2 separate regions of the Homo sapiens genome follow, and region 1 is linked to region 2. Evidence: fine-mapped expression QTL. A gene starts in region 2. The other region holds a variant in brackets. All regions are shown on one strand. Distances are between the middles of the regions. Region 1 overlaps ZNF350-AS1 (ZNF350 antisense RNA 1). Region 2 holds the start of ZNF613 (zinc finger protein 613).

Region 1 (2,911 bases), 25 kb before region 2:
CTTGCACTAAAATGTAGAAGGCATAGACGTGTGGATTCACATGTCTTATGTAAAGAAAGTTGAGCCTAAAAGAAAATAGTCTGTATATTGGGGGCGTCTAAAAGTTATTAGGACTTGAGGAAAGTTGACTTTGGAGACTGAGTCATAGAGCTTGACCTCTTAATTACTAACACTTTATTACAGATTAATTTCCTTCCATGTTTCCTAGATCCCAGGCCAGATGTCCCCGATATATAAGACCCTTTCACTGAAATAAAATATTCATTGACTGAGATAAAAGACTTTTTGACTATTATATACATAATGTAAAATGTTAAATATATCTTTCAAAAAAAAAGTCTCTTGACTCAAGCAAAATACTTAGGAGCAAACCTTAATTCCTCACTTTCTTCGTCCCCTTGTTTTGAACTCATCGGTGAGCCTTGTCTTCCTCCATTATATATCCTCCTTTCTAAGAAATATGTAAAGGTGGCATGAGTCTTGGTTTAAAAGGAATAAGGTGGTCCCTTAGGCCCCTTTTGTGATGCCAACCAAGACATAATTGTAGAATTATAGAAGATGCTATTAGTTACATGACAAGGGATCAGTGTATTAGGGACAATGAAATGGGAAAAATTCAGATCTGACATCTGTGTAGGTACTACATGCCAAATGTGACTGAAGGTGACAGACAACACATGTGGGCACCAGCAGTAGCACCCATTCAGTAACACATCTTATCCTATTCAGAAGCACATCTGCTTCTGGAGAGGTCTACATGGTTCATTGGCCTGTTGCAAACTTTCCAAATGATCATTGTTTCTCATCTTTCCCTCTTTCTTTAGAAGCACAGGAGAATGTGCCCACAGTGAGGCTAAAGGTTGGACACTGAGAATAAGTTTCTCTCTAAATGTGAGATTGGTGCTTTGGGAAAATTAGTTTGATGATACAGAATGAAGAAAAGGGATGCATTTTATTTTTATTTTTATTTTTTTTTATTGTTCATTCTTGGGTGTTTCTCGCAGAGGGGGATTTGGCAGGGTCATAGGACAATAGTGGAGGGAAGGTCAGCAGATAAACAAGTGAACAAAGGTCTCTGGTTTTCCTAGGCAGAGGACCCTGCGGCCTTCTGCAGTGTTTGTGTCCCTGGGTACTTGAGATTAGGGAGTGGTGATGACTCTTAACGAGCATGCTGCCTTCAAGCATCTGTTCAACAAAGCACATCTTGCACCGCCCTTAATCCATTTAACCCTGAGTGGACACAGCACATGTTTCAGAGAGCACAGGGTTGGGGGTAAGGTCACAGATCAACAGGATAAGAATTTTTCTTAGTACAGAGCAAAATGAAAAGTCTCCCATGTCTACCTCTTTCTACACAGACACCGCAACCATCCGATTTCTCAATCTTTTCCCCACCTTTCCCCCCTTTCTATTCCACAAAACCGCCATTGTCATCATGGCCCGTTCTCAATGAGCTGTT[A/G]GGTACACCTCCCAGACGGGGTGGTGGCCGGGCAGAGGGGCTCCTCACTTCCCAGTAGGGGCGGCCAGGCAGAGGCGCCCCTCACCTCCCGGACGGGGCGGCTGGCCGGGCGGGGGGCTGACCCCCCCACCTCCCTCCCGGACGGGGCGGCTGGCCGGGCGGGGGGCTGACCCCCCCACCTCCCTCCCGGATGGGGCGGCTGGCCGGGCAGAGGGGCTCCTCACTTCCCAGTAGGGGCGGCTGGGCAGAGGCGCCCCTCATCTCCCGGACGGGGCGGCTGGCCGGGCGGGGGGCTGACCCCCCCACCTCCCTAAGGGATGCATTTTAAAAACAGGATGACCATCTAAGAGTGTCACAGATACGTTGAAGTCGAAATCTGACATTCTGACTTGCCTCTCCCAAGATATTTGTTTAAAACAAGTGTGTCTGCTTATTTCCCTGATTGGATATAGGCAGTGTGTGTTTTCTCTCATAATTTGCAGCTACCTCATTTTTTAGTTTCCTTGTGTTTTTATTTTGTTTTCCCCAGCCAGAATGTAAGGTGGTGGTTCACGCCTGTAATCCCAGCACTTTAGGAGGCTGAGGCGGGTGGATCACCTGAGGTCTGGAGTTCGAGACCAACCTGGCCAACATGGTGAAGCCCCATCTCTACTAAAAATACAAAAAATTAGCTGGGCATGGTGGTGGGCGCCTGTAATCCCAGCTACTAGGGAGGCTGGGGTGGGAGAATTGCTTGAACCCAGGAGGTGGAGGTTGCAGTGAGCTGAGATCACACCATTGCACTCTAGCCTGGGTGAAAGAGCAAGATTCCATCTCAAAAGATATATATATATAATTTATATATTTATTTATATATGAAACTCTGGCTGTTCCTTATTATTGCATCATTGCTGTCACTGGGTGAAAGATAAGACTACCCATAGGCTAGAAAAATACAAAAGAAACCTACCCTCTACCATGCTACCTCAATTACTAACACAAAATCCACTCGGCCTGGCAATAAAAGTTAATGTTGCTATGATTACCCCACTTATCCACATTTCTATTCTACTACTTCCCCTACAGACACCTTCTAACATTGGCTTTCATATGGTTGGCTTCGGACCAAATCTTTTGGCATTCTCCCTCATGGCCTGACAAATTTTCCATTTAATCCCTTCATTCTCTGCCCTTCATTATGTTTATTCAAAATTTAGACATGCCTTTTACATATCATGCCATCATTCCCTATGCTCTATATATCACTTTAACCTCTATTTCCTTTACATTTCTACCATATTCCCTATCTTTGCTGATCATTTTTTAAACTGGCTGGATTTCCCCACAGAAATGATGTTAACAGTCTTTTTGAATAAATATAGAAATTGACTCTCCTAGTCTTAAAGCTTGAAACTTATATTCATTTTATCTGAGTTCGTTTCTCATGAAACCATTCAGGCCTCCCAGATAGTT
Region 2 (2,911 bases):
TAAGAACGTTCATAATGTAAAATTAAATACGGCAAATTATACCAATGTTTCAGCAGCTTATCTGCATTGTGAAAATCAAGCATAGAAAACTGAAATTGAAATATACAAAAATCTTATCAAAAGTCATTACTGGGGAACACATTTTGGGATAAGAGAGATGTTTTACTTGTGTCAGAACCTGAAAGAAAATATTTACGTGTGTGTATACACACATTCACACAGTAAACCTGAGGAAGAAGAACGAAAATCTTTAATAGAAACCTTATCATTTTCTTCGTTTTGTTTTTTCCTTTTTCTTTTCTCCTTTTCTTTTCTTTTTTTTTTTTTTTTGAGGCAGGGTCTCACTCTGTTGCCCAGGCTGGAGTGCAGTGCTCAATCATAGTTCACTGCAGCCTAGAACTCCCGGGGTCACGTGATCGTCCCACCTCAGCCTCCCGAGTAGCTGAGACTACAGGCGTGTGTTACCACACCCAGTTAATATTTGTATTTTTTGGAGAGACAGGCTATGTTGTTCAGGCTGATCTCCAACTTCTAGGCTCGAGCAATTCGCCCACTTTGGCCTCCCAAATGCTGGGAATATAGGCGTGAGCCACCGCGCCAGGCCACCTTACCATTTTAGATTTGATTAATCTTTGATCTTCCCCAAAGCTTTCCTATTTACCAGGATGAGAGAAAGGAGAGATGTGAGAAGTCAAATGAGATTTGTAAACCAGTCCTTGCAGAGAAACTTAAAAGGGACTGAGAGGGAATGTACCGTTGGACCTGAACACACACACCAATCAGGATGCCCTGGCTGCCAAGGCTTCAGCCTTCACAAGCTTCTCCACGACTGTCACATCTAGACCTCCCTAACATGGTCACACCCCCTTAGATTAATCCAAAAACCTGGACCACACACCTAGGTTCACATGAACCCGGGCTCCTCCTCACTGAGTCGCATATTAAATCCTGATTACAGCCTGGAGCGAAGGCTCACGCCCGTAATCCCAGCACTTTGGGAGGCCAAGGTGAGAGGATCGTTTGAGGCCAGGAGTTGGAGACCAGCCTGGGCAACATAGTGAGACCCCCGTCTCTGCAATAAACAGATAGATTAGATAGATAAATTAGATAGATAGATAGATAGATAGATAGATTAGATTAGACAGATTAGATAGATAGATAGATAGATAGATAGCGTGGTGGCGCTCACCTGTAGTCCCAGCTACTCGGGAAAGCTGAGGTGGGAAAATCACCTGAGCCCCGGGAGATGGAGGCTGCAGTGAGCCACGATTGCGCCACTGCACTCAAGCCTGTGTGACAGAGCGAGACCCTGTCTCAAAAATAAAAAATAAAACCCCGAATCCGAAGCAGACACAGTTTTCCTTGACAAAAACCACTCCTCACTCCAGTCCTCAATCACCGAGCCCTACAGAGTGACCCGCAAAGGCACCAAACCCTGATCACGGACTTCCAAGTGTTGCTCTGGACAGACTCTGACCACCGACCACTGGGATCCCTCAGGGCTGACTCCGGAGACGCCCCAACCCCAATACCCCGACTCCCACTTGCTCCCGCTTCCCCCACAAACTCCACGGCTCCGCACTAAACGGACGCCCACAGACACCCTCCTCCCCTCATCCTGACAGACAGACCCACACACAGACCTGATTTTGCGGGGAACCCACCGAGACTTCCCAGAACCTGCACTTTCCTGAATTATTCCACTTCTGGGCCCTCCCCCAGCCTCCAAGCCGGCCTACGGCGGCCGAGGAAGGTCTGAAGTTGCAGGTGTACGGAGCACGGACGACTGGGAGGTAGTAAGTTCGCGTCCTCTCGTCACGGATACTGGAGGCAGCCATCTTTGAATCCTGCACGTACGGAAGGTAAAGTGGACCTTTTCTGCCCAAGTATTCAGGGATAGCGCGGGACGGTGAAGAACTCCATATTTTGGCACCTAAATCCTGCGCCCAAGTTTCATTTATTTTCAGAGGGTCGAGCTTAGCCAAGACAAACATGGTATGGCTACGTGCACCTTAGCGGGCTGGGGAGAAAAGTCATCCGCTTTGCACAAAGAATGACGGGAATGACACAATGGGCGCGGCCATCTTAACACTTAGGTGTCCGTACAAGTGAAAACGCTTTCTCCACAGAGGAAAAAGAGCAATCGCACCCTGAGTCATATACCGCGAAAACGCATCTAGCTACATGTGGAGGACAAGAGGAAGATTTTTGAGGACCAAAAGGGTGTGGAGAGGCAATCGAGGTACGAGGATATTGTTCACCCCGTCAACGGAAAGTGAAAAAACAGCGACCCCTGGAACCTCATTTACATTTGAGGGACACGGTCACCGCCCAGTGCAGGTAAAGAGAGCAGCCACCAGCCAACCGGAAAAGGAATCCAATGCGGGAGGCGGGAATTTTCCTTAAGAGAGAAGAAGGGCCTTCCCTCTGCTGTAGGTGGAGTCAATCTTAACGTCGGGGCTTTCGGAGAACCAAGTGCCTAAAATTCTGGAAGGAATAAATAAGGCGACTCTGGGAGAATGAAAAGTTGTGCAAGCCCGGGCGCGATGGCGCACACGTGTAGTCCCAGCTACTGGGGAGACCAAGGCAGGAAGATCGCTTGAGCCCAGGAGTTCCAGGCTGCAGTGAGCTATGATCGCACCTATCAATAGCCACTGCACTACACAGCCTTGGCAACCCCTTCATGAGGAAAAAAAGAAAAAAGAAAAAAAAAAGTTGTGCAAGAAAAGTAATCATAGGATACTACCTGACTGACCTATAAATATTATTTACATAGTCATCATAACGTAAATTCTAATTCTGATCCAACCTAAATTAAGACAATTCCATTGGAAGAATGAGAAGGAAATTCCTGCATGCAGTGGAGTGTTTATATTTATAACAGAGTTTTCACGTGTCCTTCATGATACAT

Evidence for each region. PIP is the estimated chance that this variant, and not a neighbour inherited with it, causes the effect. A credible set is the group of variants that fine-mapping cannot tell apart.
Region 1: its variant is the best candidate, but not a certain one, in a credible set for the expression of ZNF613 in whole blood (INTERVAL, PIP 0.55).

What each region holds. Positions count from the first base shown.
Region 1 is chr19:51,951,700-51,954,610 of GRCh38, reverse strand. The region is part of intron 1 of ZNF350-AS1 (ZNF350 antisense RNA 1); the gene reads right to left. Among named protein-coding and RNA genes, the nearest start is that of ZNF350-AS1, 4.0 kb to the right of the region's middle. The variant A/G (reference allele first, on the strand shown) is at 1,460.
Region 2 is chr19:51,926,273-51,929,183 of GRCh38, reverse strand. ZNF613 (zinc finger protein 613) reads right to left here and starts at 1,712. Exons shown (of 6, transcript NM_001031721.4): 1 at 1,644-1,712. RefSeq lists enhancers at 1,774-2,073, 1,929-2,692.